Homo sapiens: one gene and its partners. The protein of the gene in region 4 interacts with the protein of the main gene of each other region in a pairwise test. Each region holds a gene or a part of one and is shown on either strand. Other genes may lie near its edges.

Evidence for each region.
Region 1: the proteins of ZNF124 (region 4) and TRIM55 interact in a two-hybrid assay, tested with the Homo sapiens proteins (one large-scale study listed by BioGRID and IntAct).
Region 2: the proteins of ZNF124 (region 4) and FSD2 interact in binary tests that used the Homo sapiens proteins (3 or more experiments, as listed by UniProt).
Region 3: the proteins of ZNF124 (region 4) and SSX2IP interact in binary tests that used the Homo sapiens proteins (3 or more experiments, as listed by UniProt).
Region 5: the proteins of ZNF124 (region 4) and TSGA10 interact in binary tests that used the Homo sapiens proteins (3 or more experiments, as listed by UniProt).

What each region holds. Positions count from the first base shown.
Region 1 is NC_000008.11:66,153,573-66,158,128, reverse strand, and holds part of TRIM55 (tripartite motif-containing protein 55), read right to left. Parts: intron 4,083-4,556; coding exon 3,795-4,082; intron 2,507-3,794; coding exon of another isoform or gene 2,419-2,506; intron 1-2,418. UniProt on the Homo sapiens protein: E3 ubiquitin ligase that plays an important role in regulating cardiac development and contractility, muscle growth, metabolism, and fiber-type differentiation.
Region 2 is NC_000015.10:82,795,638-82,800,193, reverse strand, and holds part of FSD2 (fibronectin type III and SPRY domain-containing protein 2), read left to right. Parts: intron 1-3,827; exon of another isoform or gene 3,828-3,944; intron 3,945-4,556.
Region 3 is NC_000001.11:84,651,761-84,656,316, forward strand, and holds part of SSX2IP (afadin- and alpha-actinin-binding protein), read right to left. Parts: intron 4,246-4,556; coding exon 4,072-4,245; intron 3,829-4,071; coding exon of another isoform or gene 3,705-3,828; intron 238-3,704; coding exon 123-237; intron 1-122. UniProt on the Homo sapiens protein: Belongs to an adhesion system, which plays a role in the organization of homotypic, interneuronal and heterotypic cell-cell adherens junctions (AJs).
Region 4 is NC_000001.11:247,157,777-247,162,332, reverse strand, and holds part of ZNF124 (zinc finger protein 124), read left to right. Parts: intron 1-2,519; coding exon 2,520-2,646; intron 2,647-3,266; coding exon 3,267-3,327; intron 3,328-4,556. UniProt on the Homo sapiens protein: May be involved in transcriptional regulation.
Region 5 is NC_000002.12:99,144,271-99,148,826, reverse strand, and holds part of TSGA10 (testis-specific gene 10 protein), read left to right. Parts: intron 1-478; exon of another isoform or gene 479-563; intron 564-1,333; exon of another isoform or gene 1,334-1,425; intron 1,426-1,704; exon of another isoform or gene 1,705-1,800; intron 1,801-4,556. UniProt on the Homo sapiens protein: Plays a role in spermatogenesis. When overexpressed, prevents nuclear localization of HIF1A.

The DNA of each region.
Region 1 (4,556 bases), on a different chromosome or scaffold from region 4:
CTTACCCTGAGGCAGCTGCTGTGTCCAGCTCAAGTATCAGCCAGAGCAGCTGCTGAGTTAATCCACCAAATAGAGATCCTGTAGAAGCCCAAGGAAACTGGGGCCTTTGATGAGTTCAAATTCACCACAAGGCTGAATCCAAACCTTGCTTTTTCTTAGAGAATGCCCATGGGGGAGCTACAGCACTCTTCTGATCTAACAAAAAGTAGTGGTCCTGTCCATCACTCGTAGAGGAAGCTGATGTTTGGTTTTTGCCATGACCGGTTTTTTTTGCCTGTGTACTTGGGTGAAGAGAGAAGGTAAGGTATGTGATAAAGCAGAAATTGTTCAGCACCAGAAACCACAGGCAGTAAAATCGAGGGCATGTTTCACTGTGTACATGGATGTAAGGAAAGCACCAGGAAATAGAGCATTTGCTTCTAAAAGGTTTGCAGTTCAGCTGTTGTGGGCTGAATGTAGTTTACAGATCAGCAAGTGAGCCTGAGATGCTTCTGAGTTTTAAAGGCAGCATTACTCTGACACGGGACCACCTAGTAAAGAGAGATAAGACCACCACTGAATCAAAGAGAACTCTTACCACATCCTAAATACTCAAGGTAAGCCTAGTGATGAAATGTGAAATTCTAGCACTCTAACCTTGAACTGGACAAATATGAATCTGGTAAACTGGGTTCTGAAGTGGTGAAGGTGAATCAGACCTGCAAAATATTCTCAGAGGCCGGGAATTTGCTACTATAGTGAGGTCTCTATCAACCTGCCCATATCCCATTTCTGGGATCAAAGAGTAGTACTCCATCATGAACAGGTGTCCTTCTCTATGTGAAAGGCCCTTCCTCAAACACCAAGAACTATACAGTAAGGTTTTTTGCAATACTGGATGTCAACGCCCTCCCCACACCTGCTCCACCTGCCCCACCCTCCTCTCCCTAGGCAGGCACGTGGATGTCAGCATACATGACATGGGCTCAGTGGATCACAGCCTTGAAGCATGACACTCCCTCTGCAGCCTCAGAGAAGCAATACAAGACATATATGTAGTGACAAAGCCCTAAACCCGAATTCTCAGAATGTAAACAGAACCCTTCAGACAATTATTCAGATCCACAATTAGGTCCTGGTTCCAATAAAGCATGGAGTTTTCTCTCTCACCATTCACCCCTCTGAGTCCATGGCCAATACATCCTCCCACTCCTTTTTACCACAGATAATGTCTGAAGGAGTTGGGCAGCTGAGCAGACTGTAAGGACACTCAGGACACTCTAGGGTGCACAGGTTTCCAGCTGACTATTGGACATTGTGGGCAGGTCCTGCTCACACACAGTTCCAGACACGGCAGAGACCAATGGAGACGCCACCGCCATTGCTGAGCAGATGGCTAATGAGGCAGAAAGTCTATGAAGGGAGCTTCCAGAAGAGTCAGTGTCAACCCAGGGAAAAGTCAGTGAGCCAGAAATAGCCGAGGCTTTTCAGCACCATTGACCCTGAACTGCCTTTGAGCTACAGGAACAAGGAGTTGGGTCTCAGGCCCAGCAGGGTCATTTACACAAAAGTACATGGAAGTTGGAATCTTTAAATATTATTAATTAAACTGAGAACTTTCAAAAGGGTATTAAAGGATTATGATGTCAGTCCTCAAGCAAACCTCATAACAGCAATCAAGCAAAGGCTTGGCTATGAGAACGGTGACTCGGAAATAATATAAATGGACTGCTTGATGACTTTATGGCTTAGTTCTTGGTTCTAATTCCTGATAGCTGGTAAGTGCACATTGATCCTCTGGCTGTTAATTCATTCAGGTCTCACGTGGCTGCAATCCCCCAGATATTTCTTCAGTCAGGGCATCTTTCTCTCAGGGACCTCCTCTCCCAGGAGAAACTCTGTAGAGTCTGAGGGTTCAAAGAGAACCCACCTGCTCACCTGCATAGGAACTGCCTAGAACATCATCCCACGAGGAGTCACTTGGCCACCTCCTGGGCATCTCTGGTGTAAGCAGATGAAATGCTTGTACTTAATCTATGGAAACCTGCATTTTCCTGCAGGAGTCCTTTGCCGCTCCTTTCTCTACGAGCAGTAAGTCCTCACCGCATTATGGACACTTGAAACTGGCCTCCCCTAATGACCATTCTGGAGGGTTTGCTCCTCCTGGATTACTGAATAATTGCCCATGGAGTTACTGTTCTCAGTCAAGGTTCCCCTCCATGCAGGAATAGATAATGGAGCAATTCTCCTCAGAAAGAGGTCTTGAGGCGATTGCATTGTGTGAGCTTGAGGCCTCCAGTATAATCTGAGAACAATGTTCTTTTGGGAGGACTGAGCCTCAAGATTTGGGGAGAAATTAATCTCTGGGCCTATAGAAGAGGAACATTATGGAAGAAACTATGTGAGATGTTAGTCAAGGGAAAAGAAAATATTTCCTACCCATTAAAGTAAAAATCAAGCACTGAATCTGACTCCAGATGTAGTGAAGAATAAGAAAAGCCAAAAGCGCTAGGCAGATTACTAACTCCTGTGAGAAAACAAGAAGAAAGCTTCACTGATATTATCACAAATAATTATTTTCAACATTATTTCAATGGACTTTTCATTTTGGCTTGAGCCCTACTACGTGCTCTTCATGGGGTAGTGCACTACTGTTTTCAGAAAACAGCCCCTCCGCACACAGCTTCTACTACCATGTATAAGAATTGCCACACATTTTCTAGAAATAATCAGTCTACTGCATCTTTTACCTAAAAACCACCTCATAAGATTTCTTCCCACCAAACATTTATTTTTGTCATTTTATCTGTGAAAATAAACATCCAACCCCAAAGCATGTTACTTTTAATTTTCCAAAATCATTTCCTTTTACTACCTCATGGAATTGAAGTCTCTTGGGCAGATACAATCAAAATAATAAGTCATTGTCTGATTTTTGAGAACATGTTGTTTGTGGTTCATAATCAATCACCTGATGACCCAGGAGCATGGAACTGGAGAGTGCTTTCTGGCAGCTTCTTGCCTGGGCAACACTCACACCCTACACATCATTTAAGAATGCTCATGAGTATGGAGTCACCATGAACATTCTTCCTTGTGAAGAAATTGTAAAAGATTTCTTCTGTGGACTCTTCAAGACATGCAAACATCTAACCAAGTGTTAGGGGGAAGACATGGACTTCAAACTCATCATATAAAGAAAGAGTCTCTTGAAAAAAATCTCTGTGGAGGAGCACCTGTGCTTTTCCACTCCCAGGAGTACATGCTTAGGAAGCACAGGTTTAATCAAGCCAAGACTGTCTCTGTCTAGCTGTAGCCAGCACACTCCAAGAATCCATGAATCAGAGGTTATTCTCCAGAACAGACTTAAAACTCAAGTGTGCTCCTTGGGGGTTGCTGGGAATGACACAAAAGCAGGGGATTAGTCTTTAGAAGCCCAAGGAGGACACAGGGAAGGCTGAGCAAGGGCAAGTGGCCGTTGGTAAGGAGGACTGGGGACACAGCCAGTCACTGCAGATGAAGCAGCGCTCAGTAGCATGCCTAAGGGCCAGGCTCACTTGCACCCCTCCCCTGGGAAGCCAGGTGTGAGGTCACCATGCACCAGGAGAGTGAACTCAAATTTGTTTTGTTTTATGTTTTCTTTTATATAGAGCTCAAAACAAGCCAACATTGGGGGATGAATTGTTTCTGTACTTTTCCCCTGGCTGAGGTTTCTCTCTGCCCCTTTGAAAACCCTTTTTCTTCTTGCTGTGGCCTGTTCCAGTGGGACCCTAGGGGGCGCGGGAAAGCATAGACACAAGTGCATCATCACTAACCTGAGAAGTAGCTGCAGGTGCACTAGTTTCCTTACCACTCACAGCTGCCCTCTCACTCGCTGCGGCTGCTGCCACTTCTGCCTTCCGTACATTCGAATCCTCAGAACCTGGAGGCCCTATTTGCCCCAGACCTTCGCTCCCTGGGGTGCAAGGTGGGTTGGTGGTGGCTTTCCGGGTTTGGCCTTTATACCAACTAGGGTAAAACAAGGGATCCGCAGTTTCTGCTGCTGCAGGGACTGGAGTTTCAGACTCTGTGGTCTGCTCAGAGCCAGTGGGTACAACCTCCCCCTTAATCAGGACAGATAAATTCAAAAGTAAAGAAAAAAAAAAAGAAGAAGAAGAAGAAAAAGCAGTTGATTTTAGTTCCCTTTGGGTTTGAACACTGTGCGCTCCCTGCATGCAGTGCCTTGGTGGCCGTTTTAGTTCATCCCACCCTCCAGAAGCGCTAAGGGCAGAATGGTGACTACAGTGCCCCTCTGTCCAGCATCTGGATGGGTGCCCTCTTCTTTTCTGAGCTTGTCTTTCACTCACTGGGAGCCCAGGCAGGCAGAGAGCAGAAACCTCAGTGAATGTTGGTTATAAAATATCAGATATGGGAAAAGGGTCAAACTATTGACTAGAATAATTTGTTGGCTTTATACGTGAGTCCCAAAAACCTCATTATAAAAAACAAAAATTAATCTTATTGATCAAATCCAACCCTCACTTAGTTACTATACCTCTTTCAATTTTAATACAACTGAAATGCTCAGAATTTAAAAA
Region 2 (4,556 bases), on a different chromosome or scaffold from region 4:
GAAGGAAGGGGGAGGTCCAGGCCATAAGGGCAAGGTGTCATCTCTGACCAGAGACAGAGTTCTTCTCTGAGGACGCAGGGCAGAGTTCTTCTTCCCGAGGCCATGGGTAACTTGGCCTCCACAAATAAAGGCTGAGGAAGAGGGATGAAACTGGAGGCTTACAGCAGGAATGTCCAGGGAGGGCAGAGGGAAGGGCAGGCAGTCAGTTCAGGACATCACAGACATTCATGGCCAGAGTGTAGAGAGGCTGAAGAAGGTGGGTTTTCTGGAAGACTGTCCCAACCTCTCACGGGCCAGCTGGGCATCCAGGCATCTTCTACCTTACAAGGTAGACCAGCAGAATAGGCACCATTTAGAGATTTAGAAATGCAGTTTTCCAGACCTCACTCTAGACTTTCTGACTCTACGTTTAACCAGAACCCCAAGGCGACGTGTGTGCAGGAAAGTTTGAGAAACCTTATTGAGAGGAGGAGTTCTGGCAGGGCTGGTGGGAGGACACCCCACTAACAGGCAGCATGCAGGGGCTGCCGTGGAGGTGACGTCACACCACATGGTGAGTTGGGGAAAGAGAGAGGCAATGAGCTCCATCTGGCAGTGCTGAGTTTGAGGGGGCTGCTGGAGGGGGCTGCTCAAGACAGCAGCTGCACCTCTGAGCCTCTGCCTCTGCATGGGGCACAGGTTAGAGCCAGAGACATGGATTTGGAGCCCTCAGAAAAGACGGGGACATAGAAGCTGTGAGACTGGATGAGATCACCTAGAGCAAGTGGAGAGTGGGAAGAGGGCCTAGAATGGAGGTTAAGGGGATGCCTGCATATAAAGAGCAGCCAAGGGGAGGAACTTGGCAGAGATTTCAGCAGTCAGTGGCCTAGGGGAAATCCCAGCTGAGCCGGGGGACACAGAAGGGTCAATAGGATTGAATGGCATGGAGCAGTCAGGAGAGCACCAGACAGGGTCCATGAATTTCCAAATTAGGCCATGAGAAAATGTTATATTAAAAGGGCAATCAAAAGTGGAGATAGGCCAGGCGCATTGGCTCACACCTGTAATCCCAACATTTTGGGAGACCAAGGCGGGAGGATTGCTTAAGCAGGAGTTTGAGACCAGCCTGGGCAACATAGTGAGACCGTGTCTCTACAAAAATTACAAAAATTAGCCAGGCGTGGTGGTGCATGCCTGTGATCCCATCTGCTCAGGAGGCTGAGGTGGGAGGATTGTTTGAGCCCAGAAGGTCAAGGCTGCAGTGAGCTGAGATTTCACCACTGTGCTCCAACCTGGGCAACAGAGCAAGACCCTGTCTCAAAAAAAAAAAAAAAAACAAAACAGTGGAGATAGTGGAAAGAAAACTTAATGCCTTTTTAAAAATATAGTTTGGGAAGTGGCTATTAAAAGGACAGTCTATCAGCAGAAGTGACAGTCTATCACTGCAGAAAGTTAAACAGAGCTGATAGGGGAAGCCGACGAACTTGTTGACTTCTGTTTTCTGTGTACAACTGTGGAACAAATAGGGAAGACAAACAGCTGGCTGCTAACTTTGATCACATAAATGGAAGTTAAGGAAAACTGGATCATAAAAGTGATGGATAAGGAAAAAACAGTGCTAAACCATATCTTAAAATATTTTGCTTATTTTTCTCAAAACATTATATATATATGTCATGTTAAAATAGTTTAATAATATTAGTTTTTTTAAAAAAAGACATTAGATTTACCACAATTTTTTAATGGGGGTAGGCATTAGGAACTGGATTGTGATGATGGCTGCACAATTTGGGGAATTTACTAAAAATCATTGAATTGTGCACTTAAAACATGAATTTTCTTCCTTTCGTTCTTTCTTCCTTTCTATCTTCTGACAGGGTCTTGCTCTGTCACCCAGGCTGGAGTGCAGTGGCAAGATAATAGCTCACTGCAGCCTCAATCTTCCAAGCTAAAGTGATCCTCCCACCTTAGCATCCCGAGTAGCTGGGACTGCAGGCACACACCACCACGCTGGGCTAGTTTTGTTTTTTGATTTTTAAATAGAGGTGAGGTTTCTTTTTGTTGCCCAGGCTGGTCTCGAACTCCTAAGCTCAAGTGGTCCTCCCACCTTTGCCTCCCAAAGTGCTTGGATAACGGGTGTCAGCCACTGTACCTGACCTGTAATATTTTTCTGTGCTTGGAAAGTCTTTTGTTGGTCATCTATGATACTTCTCTACAAAAATACAGATGTATAACTTGAGATGAAAGATTTTCTCTTGTTCTCCTGGGACCATACATCTCTGAATATTAAACTCTTTTTTTCTTTTGGATGAAGTTACCAATACAACTTTTAATCACATGTAAGCAAAATAACATAAACATATTACAAATTTTGGTAAATAATAATAATTATTATTGTTATTTTTGAGATGGAGTCTCGCTCTGTCGCCCAGGCTGGAGTGCAGTGGCGTGATCTTGGCTCACTGCAACCTCCGCCTCCCAGGTTCACGCCATTCTCCTGCCTCAGCCTCCCAAGTAGCTGGGACTACAGGCGCCCGCCACCACGCCCGGCTAATTTTTTGTATTTTTAGTAGAGATGGGGTTTCACCGTGTTAGCCAGGACGGTTTCGATCTCCTGACCTCATGATCTGCCCGCCTCGGCCTCCCAAAGTGTTGGGATTACAGGCGTGAGCCACCACGCCTGGCCAATAATTGTTAAATGAAAAATAAAATGGAAATGCATCTCTTAATGAGGTAGATGGAGCTTTTTTAAAAAAAGTTTATTTGTGTATCCATTGATGAAAATTACATATTTTAGACTGCAACAGGAATTAGGGTCAATTGTCTTTCCGCTTTTCATTTTGTTGATGTAAGAACAGAGCAACCTTGCTTAGCTACGTAATCAAACATTGATGGAAATGAAAGTGTTTTATTATAGCAATGTCACTCACATTTTTGAACTCTTTCTGAAATGTGTTTCAAAAAGTACATAGTGATCTATCATGAAAAATTATTTTTAATCATATATTAGCTGACAATTTGATTAGATCCTCCTTCAACTTTATTGAAAGCAAAGAACTGGAAACCACTTAGCTTGAAAACAAATTTTTTCTTATGCATTCATTAATGTCATTCACCCTCCACCATTGATAGCAATACTTCAAATTGTCCTTCCATTTAGTCCCCTGGAGGTGTTTTTTTTTTTTTTTTTTTTTAATTACCAAGCAATGAAATCTTACAGTGCAATGAAATATTCAGGATAAGTGAGAGGTATAGTTTTACTTTTGTAATAAAGAGAAAAAGGACTATTGTGAAAAAAGAATCTACATGAAGCCTCAAATGCTAGTTCCTTCCCAGGCAGAGCAGCTCTGGGAAAGATTAAATATAAAGTTGAGCATCTGGGAGCTGATCCTCCTGAAGCTATCTATACCATGTACCCCTTGGAAAGTCTTCGCATACAGATTCCATAGCCTGAAGAGTGATGGTGGAAATGCCACCCTTTGATGGAGTCTGGAGAGGGAAAGGGGAGAAAGAGAGAATAGCAGCTAGCAGAGAAAGCTGGGTGGAAAGTTTATTTTTAGTCTGGGACAATGAACTAGTCATCTATTGTGGCATAACAAATTATTTCAAAACTTGACAGCTTAAAACAACAAATATTTATTCTCTTGAATCGTTTCTGAGGGTCAAGAACCTGAGAACAGTTCGTCTGGGTGATTGTGGCTCAGAGTCTCTCATGAGGCCTGGTGACCACTTTCCGTTGGTTCTCCTAATACGTCTTATGCCCGCAGCAATGCTGCCAACTTCTTCAGCTCACCTGCCAGCCAACCTTGGTTCACCTGTGTTTCCATATGTTTTTCTTGCTTTTACAGCCACTGGGGACCAGCTCTGGCCAGGACAATTCCGTTTGCCATGATGTGGGTTGAAATCACAACTTCTCCCGGGCGCAGTGGCTCACGCCTCTAATCCCAGCACTTTGGGAGGCCAAGGTGGGTGGATCACAAAGTCAGGAGTTTGAGACCAGCCTGGACAACATGGTGAAACCCCGTCTCTACTAAAAAATACAAAAATTAGCTGGATGTGGTTGCGGATGCCTGTAATCCCAGCTACTTGGGAGGCTGAGTCAGGAGAATCACTTGAAACCAGAAGGCGGTGGTTGAGTGAGCAGAGATCGCGCCACTGCACTCCAGCCTGGGCAACAAGCACAAAACTCCATCTCAAAAAAAAAAAAAAAAAAAGAAAAGAAAAAGAAAAGGAAATCAAAACTTCTTCTATGACATTTGAACTCCCTGTGAAGTTTATCCTGTGTTACAGTTTTTCTCTCAGTCTTAGAGTATCCTTTAGTGTCCTCTTCATAATTACTCTCCTATCATAACTCACCTATCATCTAATACTTTTTTTTTTTTTGAGATGGAGTCTCGCTCCATCACCCAGGCTGAGGTGAAGGAGTGCAATCTCAGCTCACTACAACCTCCGTCTTCTGGGCTCAAGAGACCCTCCTACCTCAGCCTCCTGAGTAGCTGGGATTACAGGCGTGTGCCACCACGCCTGGCTAATTTTTTTGTATTTTTGGTAGAGATGGGTTTTCACCATATTGCCCA
Region 3 (4,556 bases), about 160 Mb from region 4:
TAATTAGAGAGCTCTAATTGGTGATTTCCAAAGTTTTGTATTAATAATATGTAGTATTTTGTAATATGTAAATAATTTTATTTATATGCATGTTCAAATTAAAGAGTTTATAAAGTACTCACTTCCTGAGAAGGCACTGAAAAGTTTCACATTTTCTGAGTTCTGGTGGTCAAAGGTAGTCATATTTAGAAACTGCTGCTTTAACCAACTGGCTCTTTCTTCTTCAAATGCCTTTCTCTACCATAAACAGCCAAAGAAATAATGATCAATATTTCAACATCCACACAGTTGCCATTTCACATGATTGCTCTAGCTATCTTTGTTTGCTCTCTGGCTATCTATTCGTACTTCTTATGTCAAATGAGTTAACCTAAAAAACTAAAAATAATTTCAGCACTCGTCTGTAATCCCAGTATTTTGGGAGGCTGAGGGTTGGTGGAGCACTTGAACTGAGGAGTTCCAAACCAGCCTAGGCAACACGGCAAAACCCTGTCTCTACACGAAATACAAACATCAGCTGGGCATGGTGGCACAGGACTACAGTCTCAGCTACTTTGGAGGCTGAGGAGGGAGGATGGCTAGAGGCTGGGAAGTTGACGCTGAAGTGAGCCGAGATAGCACCACTGCACTCTAGCCTAGGTGACACGGCAAGACCGTATCTCCAAAAAAAAAAAAAAAAAAAAAAAAAAAGCCGGGCGCAGTGGCTCATGCCTGTAATCCCAGCACTTTGGGAGGACAAGGTGGGCGGATCACAAGGTCAGGAGTTTGAGACCAGTCTGGCCAACATGGTGAAACCCCATCTCTACTAAAAATACAAAATTTAGCCGGGCATGGTGGCGTGCGCCTGTAGTCCCAGCTACTCAGGAGGCTGAGGCAGGAGAATCACATGAACCCAGGAGGCAGGGGTTGCAGTGAGCTGAGATCGCACCCCTGCACTCCTGCCTGGGCAACAAAGCAAGGCTCCATCTCAAAAAGCAAAACACGGCCGGGCACGGTGGCTCACGCCTGTAATCCCAGCACTTCGGGAGGCCAAGGCGGGTGGATCACGAGGTCAGGAGATCGAGACCATCCTGGCTAACATGGTGAAACCCCGTCTCTACTAAAAATACAAAACAAAAAAAATTAGCCGGGTGTGGTGGCGGGTGCCTGTAGTCCCAGCTACTCAGGAGGCTGAGGCAGGAGAATGGCATGAACCCAGGAGGCAGAGCCTGCAGTGAGCCAAGATCACGCCACTGCACTCTAGCCTGGGCAACAGAGTGAGACTCCATCTCAAAAAAAAACAAAAACAAAAAAACTAAGAAAAATTTCACTTACGAAAAAATTATGTTTAAAAAATAGAAATTCATCTGTTTCACCTAATAAACCAACCATCACTGTCTTCATATCAATTTTAAGTTCAAATAAACAATGCAAAAAATGGAACAGAATATTAGCATAACTTTTGAACATACAAAACATTATAAAGTTACAAACAAAAGAAAAATAATCTATATTGTAAATTAGTCACTTGAAAAACAGGACCTATGACTTCATCAAGCATTTCTCTCATCCTCTAGCCATCTACCAGTACTGGTAGCCACCACCACTAAACCACAAGAGGGCATAGGCAAATTATGTCAAACCTCCCCCTTCTGAATAGCTGATGAATCCTAAACTAAATTCTCCATCAGCCCTCAGGTCTTGCATGCCTCCCTCCCATCCCTCACTATGCCCACTGTCCCAGTGACCAGACGGAGAAAAATTCTCTTGCAGGGAAAGGCACCTGGCAACTGGGAGCAATATGCAAAGTAGCAAGAGTAATTACTCTCTTGGAGTAATGTGGGGAATAAGGGCTTGGAAACAGGTAGGAGACAATGCTGGTCAAGTGTTGTTCCCTGAAGATAGCTACTGATGAAACAGACGTTCACACTGTGAACTGAGGAAATCCACGTCAGCTACTGAAAACAAGCAACACACAGTCTTTCATTCATAAATATTGATACAGAATCACGCATCACCAAACATTGAGAAAACTAATATAGAAAAAAGGTCAAGATAAATAGAAAACTGACCATGGATAAGAGATAATTCAACAGATGAAAGAAATCTTTTTTAAAAATGTAACAAATATTATCAGATTAATAAACATCTGTAAAATACCATCATGCTATATAAAGAAAAGCAAAAATTAAGGACATTAGAAAAATTTAAAGATAAATTCTGAAGCAAAGACTCAGTGGCTAAAGCAAATAATAAAACTGACCCTGAAAGGCCAGTTTCGTGATCTCTAAGATAAAGGTAAGAGAATATCCCAGAATTGAGAACAAAAGTCAACCTGTAGATATATATTCAGAAGGCCAAATGTGTGTCTAACAAAAGTTCCAGAACACAGAGAAGTCAAAGAAGGAAAAAATAAAGAAGAAAATTTCCCTAAATTAAAGAAATACAGAATCTTTAGGATGAAAGGAACTCTCTAGAAGTATCCTGGTAAAATTTCCAAACTTTAAGAAAATACCAAAGCTTCCACAGAGGGAGATAGAAAACAAAACACAGTTATCTACAAAGTAACACAGGTATATTACAATCAGGCTTCTCATCAGTAAAACTAAACACTAGGAGAAATGGAATAATTCAAAGTTTTGAAGGAAAAAAAACTGGAATCTAAATTCTATACACAGCCAAACCAATCAAGTATGAATATATTTTTGACTATTCCAGAATTCAGAATGTTTACAGCTCATGCACTATTTATAAAAAAAAAATTACTCAAGAATTAGTAATTACTCAATTACTAATATAGCGAATTGAACAGAAACCCAAGAAAGACAGTAACATGAGATATGAGCAACATGGCAGCTGAAATCTGATTCAGGAAATCACAAAGGAAGCTACAGAGAAAAAGAATTCACTAGATAGTGATATATCTCTCTGGGTGGCAAAGTCTTAATAATACAGAATATTTTCTGTGTCCAAACATATTTGGTTATAGAATAACATTTACATAATTGTAGTATTATCAATTTTCTTTCCTGGTTTTCCAACTTTTAAGTCTCAAGTTTAGACAAAGTACTTATACCTGGATTGTATTAGAGGACAAACTATGAATGTGATAACAATGAAAAATAATATCACAAAAATTGCAAAGTAGTACAGCAAGAGAGGTAGAACAAGAGTAACAACAAGAAAGTCCTCAGCTTTCACTGCAGGGATGAACTGATACTGACTGAAGTTGAACAAACATGAAATGGAAGCTTTTTATTATTTCCTTAAAGCAAAAAAAAGGCAAGCAGACGAACAAGAGGAACAATATTATGAAGACATGAGATGTGAATGAGGAAGGGTGTAGGTAGGAGGTACAATAAGGACACAGAATTCCTTATCTTTCATAGCAGGGAATCAATGAACTGATAAACAAGAAAACTTGAAATACATTAAAAGTTAAAATAGTACTTCCTAGAAGAATTTCCAACAGATACTTTTTAACAGCAGTTACCTCTAAGGAATGAAACTGAGGATGAGAAAGGAGGATACTTTCTTACTTTGTAGCTTTTTTTAATGAGTTTTGTTGATTTTTTTTTTTTAACCTTATTCAGACATTACTGCTACAATTTTTGAAGGGGGAATATGTAGATGACACATTGCTAAGTAAAAAAAGCAAGCTGTAGAGCGTATATATAACAATGATGGACTGGGGAGAAGAGAACTTAATTTTTTATTATACTTCCTTTTTAAACAGCAAATATAGTCTTGGTTGCACTGTCTTCTGACACCACACCTACTGACCGTGGATGAATGATGGATACCCAAAAGAGATTTCTTGTGTAAAACACTTAGCAGGAGAAAGCCAATCTGAAAGCAGTAATAAATGCTTATAGCGTTTTTTTTTCTTAAGTTCAATTCTCAAATCTGGTAAGGGGAAATGATCCCATTCTATATGCTCAGCCTCCCTCTCATTTCAAATTATTTGTGAGATCACCAGTAAATATTTTAGAAAATAAGTAAATAGCAAGAAAAAAAGGAGACCTTAGAAGCATTCTACTGAGGCCCACCCACCCCCAGTATTTTCAAAAGCACTACAATTGTTTAAAATACCTCCAATCCCAGGCGAATAGCGGCTTCTGTAAAGCTTCGTCTCTCCCTCTCAAAATTCTTTTTCTGCTCTTTAAAAAGGGACCATTCTTCTTTGAGACGTTCCTTTTCTTCCAACAAATAACAGTCTCGTAATAGTGAAGTGGTATCATCATCATATGCAGTAGCGAGCTGCTGCTATTAAAATTTAAAACATAGTAAGTTCCTGAGGGACCTTGCGACACTCCAACGAGTTGAAATGAAAGCAAGGGAAGGCCAGTCAAACTTCAGGGCAGGAATAGAAATTATTAAGAATCAAAAAGTCAAATGAGAATTCTCATTTCCCGAAACCTACTACCCCAACTAGCAAAGTATGGACTATTTAAGGAGTGGTACACAATGTATCTGTTAGCAGGGAACACAGACTAGAAATCTGTCAAATACCAGGGCCTTATGAAATAAAGGAATACAAATCTGGTAAGGTTCAGCACAATTCTGGCTTTTCATGG
Region 4 (4,556 bases):
GTTTCTCTATCCAGCTTGTCATTTTGCCTTTTAATTGGGGCATTTAGCCCATTTACATTCAAGGTTACTATTCATATGTGTAGATTTGATCTTGTTATTGTGTCGTTAGCTAGTTATTATGCAGACTTGTTTGTATGCTTGCTTTATAGTGTCACTGGTCTATGTACTTACGTGTGTTTTTGTGGTGGCTGTTAATGATCTTTCCATATTTAGCACTACCTTTAGGAACTCTTATAAGGCAGATCTAGTGGGAACAAATTCTCTTAGTAGTTGCTTGTCTGAAAATGATTATGAAGCTTCTTTTGGCTGGATGGGAAATTCATGGTTGGAATTTCTTTTCCTTAAGAATGCTGAATATAAACTCTGATAATGCACAATAAATTTTCTGGACATTAGAGAAAAATTACTGGACTGTAGATTGTGGTAAAGTTCAAATTACTGGAAATAGCAATGGAGTATATCCACTGCCTTGGCCTTCATTTCTGCGTATTTATTTGGTGTGGTAATCACCACTTGAGATTCTCTAATTTTTGTTCTTCTAAAGAATGTGGACTATTATTTACTATTATTATTATAGTAATATGCCATATTATTTGGCTGTTTTATTACCAAGAAAATGGATCTCTTTCCATAAATGGTCTTTTTTCTTGTTATGTATCTTTTGCTTTTTTTTCCCATTTTTTAATCATGTTTTCATTCATTTTTACTGTGCACACTAATTTCTTTTATATTGCATGTATTGCAGATTTTTATTTTACTGTTTTTTGTCTTTTAATTCTCCTAATTTTAATATATTTGAATTTGTCAGTCTCTATTGTTTGCTCCTTTTCTCCTATTCATATGTCAAAAAAAACCTTGTCTGTGACTTCTGCAAGTGGTCTATTTATACTTTTTACTTTTGAATATATGACAAATTGATTATTGTCCAACTAATAGAGGTCAATGCAATTCATTTTTTTCCCAATTAAATACCGGTTAGCTTTGTTCCATGTTTAAAGTGCTTGATACTTCCTTCACTATCCTACAATGCCTCCTCTGTTATTAGTCAGCTTTCCATATCAATTCCAGCTAATTAAAGACTATATGCCTTTCTCTTGGCCTAGTTCTTTATCTCTCTGCTTATACTACACTGCCCTGAATATTATATTTGAAAATCATTGATGTGTATTAGGCAAACCATCACACTGTTATTCAGAAGACTTTGACGGTTGTTAGGCGTTTGTTATTTCTGTAGGTTTTGAAAAGTAGTTTCTGCTGAACTGCTAGAAAGTCTGTTTCAGGCATCTATGAAATTTTACATAAATATCATTTGTAAGAGGTGACATCTAGATGACATTGAGTTTTTTTCTTTGAACGCATGCCTTTTCACTTATTCTATTCTGCTTTGACATTTTTCAGTAGAAATTGTAAAATAATTATTTTTGGATTATTGAATATTGATTATTAGTGTTAATTACCTCTTGATTAAATTTGGGCTTGAGTGAAGCACTTATAAGCTTCTACACATTTTCTCTTTGTGTAACCACGTGGATTGGGCTCAATTTCCCAATTAAAAAGTTGTGACATCATATATGAAATATTATCTACCAGGGAAGCTCATCAGATACTCAGTGCTCAGAGTGTGTTTTTGTTTGTTTATTGAGGCTGATCCCCCTAGGCACCACTGCTACAATAAAACAAAATAATAGACTTTTGGAAGGAAAACAGGGGTTCAGCAAATACCAGATTGTTTAGATAAACTATTTAGCAACAGTGAGCTACTTTTATCACTTAGGTTGTTGGGATGCCTCTTAAAATGTAAGTTCCCTCATACCAGCAAAGGTTGAACTTTGTAGCAGGTATTTCTAAGGGTAAGTAGTCTTGTGACGGCTCATATTAACTCTCTTATGCACACCAGATAGTAAGACTTTGATATGATATGTACTGCAGGTATATGCTATAAAGAAAAATCATAACAGCAAATATTACTCCCTGGACCCACCAACAAGAAGGGTGTTCCTTCTCTGCTGCTGCCTTGCTGAACAGTTCAACTTTAGCATAAGAACTGCTGGCTGAGCGCGGTGGCTCACGCCTGTTATCCCAGCACTTTGGGAGGCCAAGACAGGCAGATCACGAGGTCAAGAGATCGAGGCCATCCTGGCCAACATGGTGAAATCCTGTCTCTACTAAAAATACAAAAATTAGCTGGGCGTGGTGACATGTGCCTGTAGTCCCAGCTACTTGAGAGGCAGAGGCAGGAGAATCACTTGAGCCTGCGAGGCGAAGATTGCAGTGAGCTGAGACGGTGCCACTGCACTCCAGCCTGGCAACAGAGTGAGACTCCGTCTCAAAAAAAAAAAAAAAAAAAAAAAAAGAACTGCTATGTGGGAGAAAGGAAGTGTAGACAGAGTCATAGTTCTAGTGACCAAATAGTAGAATAAATGTTCGCCACAGAATCAGATGAACATCTTATAAATTGACTACAGATTTCCAGTGCTTTCAGTCTCATCCATCCTCTACAAAAATGTGGAATATTTTAGAACTCGGTTGCCTTTGAGGATGTGGCTGTGAACTTCACCCAGGAGGAGTGGGCTTTGTTGGATCCTTCCCAGAAGAATCTCTATAGAGACGTGATGCAGGAAACCTTCAGGAATCTGGCTTCCATAGGTAAGAATCACAATATTTCTTCACTTAGTCAATCAGAAAGTAAGTGTTTCATGGTTTTCAATGTCATTCCATGATTTGGAATGTACAAAGGGAACACTTTGATGAGTGAATGAGGCATGGACCCAGTGTGCAATGACTCTTGTTTCTTAGTCTATTTTTTAATTGTGATAACAGAATACCTGATCCTGGGTAATTTACAAAAATAGTTTTATATTGGTTTATGATTCTAGTGGCTAGAAAGTCCAAGGTTGCATCTGGTAAGGACCTGATGCTACTTCAGCTCAGGGCATGAAGCAGAAGCAAGTGGGCATGTGCAAAGGGATCACAGCAAGAAAATAAGAGCAATTCTTGGGAGCTAAACTTGCTTTTATAACAACCTGCCCTCTGGCAACTAATTCAGTCTTGCAAGAGTAAGAGAAAACATGCATTCCCAAGCAAGGACATTAATCTATTAATAAGGAATCTGTACCCATAACACAAACAATGTTGCCATATTGATGACCAAATTACAGCATTCATTTTGGTGGGTACAAACCATATCCCCAACATAGCACCTAGAGTCTAGTAATTTTTCTATAATTTCAAATAATTTGTAATATATTTCTGGGTCTACATTTTAGGAAACAAAGGGGAAGACCAGAGCATTGAAGATCAGTACAAAAATTCTTCAAGAAATCTAAGGTAATTTGCCCTCACAAGAGGAAGCAGTCCCCCTTGGGGTCAATTGTAGTATATAATCATATGTTTAAAGCAAACAAGGCCAGGCATGGTGGCTCACACCTGTAATCCCAGCACTTTGGGATGCTGAGGTGGGCGGATCACCTGAGGTCAGGAGTTTGAGACCAGCCTGACCAACACGGCAAAAACCCGTCTCTACTAAAAATACAAAATTAGCCCAGTGTGATGGTGCATGCCTGTAATCCCTGCTGTTTGGGAGGCTGAGGCAGGAGAATTGCTTGAACCTGGGAGGCGGAGGTTGCAATGAGCTGAGGTTGTGCCATTGCACTCCAGCCAGGGAAACAAGAGCAAAACACCATCTCGGGGAAAAAAAAAAACCAAGCAAACAAAATAAATTAAGACAACATCAATTTATTCTCAAAGTTTTTACCAAAAATATATACTTCAATGTAACATGGATGTTAAATGTTTGCAAAATAGTTCACTTGAAAACAGTATTGTTTTAGTCTGCTTGCATTGCTATAAAGGAATACCTAGGCTGAGTAATTTATAAGGAAGAGTTTTATTTGGCTAATGGTTCTGCAGGCTTTATCAGAAGCATAAAGCCAGCATCTGCTTCTGATGAGGACCTCAGAGAGCTTCCAGTCATGGCAGAAGGGGAAGGGGAGCTGACATGTCACATGGGGAGAGAAGGAGCAAGAGAGAGAGAAAGGAAGTGCCAAAGTTTTTGGGGTTTTTTTGTTTTGTTTTGTTTTGTTTGAGATGGAGTCTCTCTCTGGTATCCAGACTGGAGTGCAGTGGTGCAGTCTTGGCTCACTGCAACCTCCGCCTCCCGGGTTCAAGTGATTCTCCGGACTCAGTCTCCCAAGTAGCTGGGATTACAGGAACATGCCACCACACCCAGCTAATTTTTGTATTTTTAGTAGAGACAGCATTTCACCATGTTGGCCAGGCTGGTCTTGAATTCCTGACCTCAAGTGATCTGCCCACCTTGGCCTCCCAAAGTGCTGGGATTACAGGCGTGAGCCACCATGCCCGACCATTTTTTTTTTTTTTTTAACAATCGGATCTTTCAGGAACTAATAGAGCGAGAAGTCACTCATTACCACAACAGTGCCACTTATGTGGAATCTGCTCCCATGACCCAAGCACCTCACACCAGGTCATACCTCCAACATGAGGATCAAATTTCAGCATGAAATTTGAAGGGAGAAAATACCCAAACTGTATTC
Region 5 (4,556 bases), on a different chromosome or scaffold from region 4:
TCTAACGTTTGTATTTTTAGTAGAGACGGGGTTTCCCCATGTTGACCAGGCTGGTCTTGAACCCCTGACCTCAGGTGATCCACCCACCTCAGCTCCCAAAGTGCTAGGATTACAAGCATGAGCCACTGCGCTCAGCCTCACCCACTTTTTAGAATGTATTATGTCTTTAATATTTACCTACTGTGGTATCTTTGATAGTTTACAATTTCATACTCATCAAGCTGTAATTACTGACTGAACATTTCTAAAGAATCATCTTGAAACCCTGTTTATCCATATTTGTGACTGAATATCAGTGTTTATAACAAAACAGAGTCCTGGGTCTACTGTAGTAGCCTAAATATAGTACTTACTCAAATATTAATATAACAATTAGGTAAATAGTATATATTTGGCTTTCTGGGACTCAAATACAACTTAGCTAAATTTTTTAATATCTCTGATGAAATTCTGAAATATGGGTATATTTGATTTTTAGATTTGGAACTTGAAGATGAATTTTTCTTCCTCATCAAAGGAATATCTAATACTGCCTTCAAATGAATAAAATTGAGTTTATTCTATTTGGTTTCTCTTTTTCTTAGAAAGGAAATACTCCTGTCAAATGCATAACTTGAATCTAAACATGAGGAAACAATCAGATAAACCCAAACAGAAGTATCTTCTATGAAACAAATAGCTTCTACCTAAAAATGTCAATGTTATGAAAGACACAGAGAGGCTGAGGAACTGTTTCAGATTAAAGGAGGCTAAAGATACATTATTTCAGATGCAACCAATGCTCTTGAATTGGGAAGGGGATGGAATGTACTACAAAGATCATTACTTAGATAACTGAAACATTTGGATATGGGACAATATTAGATAATAATATTGGATCAATGTGATAAATGCCATGAATATGATAATTGTATTGTGGTTATATAAGTCAATGTCCTTGTTCTTAGGAAATACATACTGAAATAGTTAGGGGTGAAGAATTGTATCTGCAACTTGCCCTCAAATTGTTTAGCAATAGATAGATAGATACATAGATACAGAAAGACAGTAAAATATGCAAAATGCTAACAACTGTTAAATCTAGGAGGTAAAGCTTAAAAAGTTGTTCTACATATTATTATTATTACATTTCTGTAGGTTTAAAACTTTTTCAAAATACAAAATTGAAAAAACGTTTTAAAAAACACAAAACTCTAAAACATGGCATTTGAAATCAACAAACGTAAAAGAATGGTAACATATAATTATCAATTTGCACATTAAACTTCAATCTAATAAAAGGACTGAGGAGGAACCAAGTATAATAGGGTAGACTTGGCCCTGTGAGTCTTACCTTAACTTCCCCAGAGTTGAGGACATGAAGGGTGAACAAGTCTATTGGGGGCCTCTTTGGACTGGCATTTAGGTTGCCATTCAAGAAGAAATCTGGAATATATATGTAAGAATAAAGGTACATAAAGAGATAAATCAATCTGGAGAAAAAGAACAAAGTGGCTTTCTTTACTAGATATTAAGATAGGCTACGCGGCTGGGCACAATGGCTCACGCCTGTAATTCCAGCACTTTGGGAGGCCAAGGTGGAAAGATCTCTTGAGTCCAGCAGTTTGAGACCAGCCTGGGCAACATAGGGAGACCTCATCCCTATCAGAAAAAAATTAAAAAAAACAAAAAGATATGCCACAAAGTGAAAGTAATAAAAATAACCTTGTACAGGTACAGGAACAAATAATCAGTAGAATATGACAGAGCTGTAACTTGGACTTAGGTATTTCAGGAACTTCACATATATCACAGGTGGCACTATAAGACAAAGGAGATAGAACAGACTAAGTTTAGTATGATGGTATCGTGAACATTGGCTAACTATGTGGACATAAGCAGGATCTTAAACACAGAAGTAGGCTGGGCGCGGTGGCTCACGCCTGTAATCCTAGCCCTTTGGGAGGCTGAGGTGGGCGGATCACGAGGTCAGGAGTTCGAGACCAGCCTGATCAACATGGTGAAACTCTGTCTCTACTAAAAATACAAAAATTAGCCAGGTGTGGTGGCGGGTGCCTGTAATTCCAGCTACTCAGGAGGCTGAGGCAGGAGAATCGCTTGAACCCAGGGGGTGGAGGTTGCAGTGAGCTGAGATCATACCATTGCACTCCAGCCTGGGCGACAGAGCAAGACTCCGTCTCAAAAAGAAAAAAAAGTGGAGTGCAAATGCATTAAAGACCTAAATGTGAATGGCAGAACTGTAAATGCAATAGAAGAAAATATCTGTTACCTTGGAGTGAAGAAAGATTTCTTGAACAAGACTAAAAAGCTTAAACAATAAGGGAGGAAAACAGTGAGTTTGATTACTCATAATTGAGAATTTCTATTCAATGAAAAAAATATAAACAAAAAGATAGATAAGAGACTGGAAGGAGATATTTTCTGTGTCCAAAGCTGATGGTATTTAATGGCTGGAATAAAAAGAGAACACCTAGAAATTAGCAAGGAAAAAGAAAACCCAATAGAAAAATGGGCAAAGGATATAAAAACATAATTCACAGATTGAGGAATCCCAAACAGATAATTAACTAGGAATCAGAGAAATTCAAGTTGCAAAGAAATTGCAACCTCCGCCTTTCTGGGTTCACATGATTCTCCTGCTGAGGCCTCCCGAGTAGCTGGGATTACAGGCACCTGCCACCATGCCCGGCTAATTTTTGTATTTTTAGTAGAGACGATGTTTCGCCATGTTGGCCAGGCTGGTCTCGAATTCCTGACCTCAAGTGATCTGCCCTCCTTGGCCTCCTAAAGTGCTTGGATTACAGCATGAGCCACCGTACCTGGCCACATCTGGCTAATTTTTAAAATTCATTTTTTTTGTAGAGACAGGGTGTCACTGTGTTGCCCAGGCTGGTCTCGAATGCCTGTACTCAAGCAATCCTCCCACTTCCCAAAGTGCTGGGATTACTGGCGTAAGCCACCATGCCTGGACTGGTTTGAACCTTTTATAACAAAACCCAGATCACAGCAGTCCTCTGCTCAACACACTCTAGTTGCTTCCCATATCAGAGAAAAAAATTATCTACATATCTGGTCCCCAGCTGTGGTAGGCAGAATAATAGTCTTCAAAGATGTCTTTGTCCTAATCCCCAGAAGCTGGGACTATGTTATGTTATGTGGCAAGGGGGAATTAAGGTTGCTAATCAGCTGACTCTGAGGGTGGGAAAATTCTCCTGGATTAATTGGGTGGTACTAATGTAATCACAAGGGTCTTTTTTTTTTTTCTTTTTGGGACAGAGTCTCACTCTGTTGCCCAGGTTGGAGTGCAGTGGTGTGATCTAGGGTGACTGCAGCCTCCGCCTCCTGGGTTCAAGTGATTCTCGTGCCTCAGCTCCCAAGTAGCTGGGATTACAGGTGCCTGCCACCACGATCAGTTAATTTTTGTATTTTTGGGGAGAGACAGGGTTTTGCCATGTTGAACAGGCTGGTCTTGAACTCCTGACCTCAAGTGATCCACCTGCCTTGGCCTCCCAAAATGCTGGGATTATAGGTGTGAGTCACCGCACCTGCCACACAAGAGTCTTTAGAAGTGAAAGAGGGAGGTAGAATGTGTTAGCCATGATGCAATGTGAGGAGGACTTGACTGGCCATTTTTGGCGTTGAATATAGACTGGGATCACAAGCCAAGGAACATGGGCTGCCAGTAGAAGCTGGAAAGGCAAGAAAGGGGATTTTCCCCTAGAGCCTCCAGAAGGAATGTAGACCTGCCTGACATCTTGATTTTAGCCCAGTGAGACCCAATTTGAACTTGTAAATCTCCAGAACCGTGTGATAATAAATTTGTGTTGCTTAAAGACACCAAGTGTGTGGTAAATTGTTGCACAGCCGTAGCAAACAACTCTACTAGCAAGCACTCTCTCCTGTCTCTTTGCCTTATTCGACCCCAGACCTATCACCCCATTGCTGTTCCTCAAGCATATTCTATGCCAAACCTTCTCCTGCTTCAGGACCTTTGCACTTACAGTTCCCCCAGCCTGAAGCAATTTTTGCATTGCAAACCACATCCCTTGAGGATAGTTAGTGACATGGGGCCTGGAACTGTGAAGAATGGCAGACTTCTGCTGCTAGTCATGATGGAGTAACAGAGACCAGACTTATCCTCATGCTTTCAGCATCTTTTTTTTTTTTTTTTTTTTTTGAGACAGAGTTTTGTTCTTGTCCCCCAGGCTGGAGGGCGATGGCACGATCTCGGCTTACCGCAACCTCTGCCTCCCGGGTTCAAGCAAGTCTCCTGCCTCAGCCTCCCGAGTAGCTGGATTACAGGCATGAGCCACCGTGCCCCGCCTGCTTTCAGCATCAAAACACAAAACACATGAAGCAATGGCTTTTAGATATTGGACAACAGGCAGTTCGGGAGAGTGATCCTTGAGAAACAGGAAATAAAGTGAGCCCTATGAATGGACATTGCCTGGAACTTTCAGGCCTCGGCATAAGGAGGAAACTCTCTGATTTAAAAAACGGAACACAGGCCGGGCGCGGTGGCTCATGCCTGTAATCCCAGCACTTTGGGAGGCCGA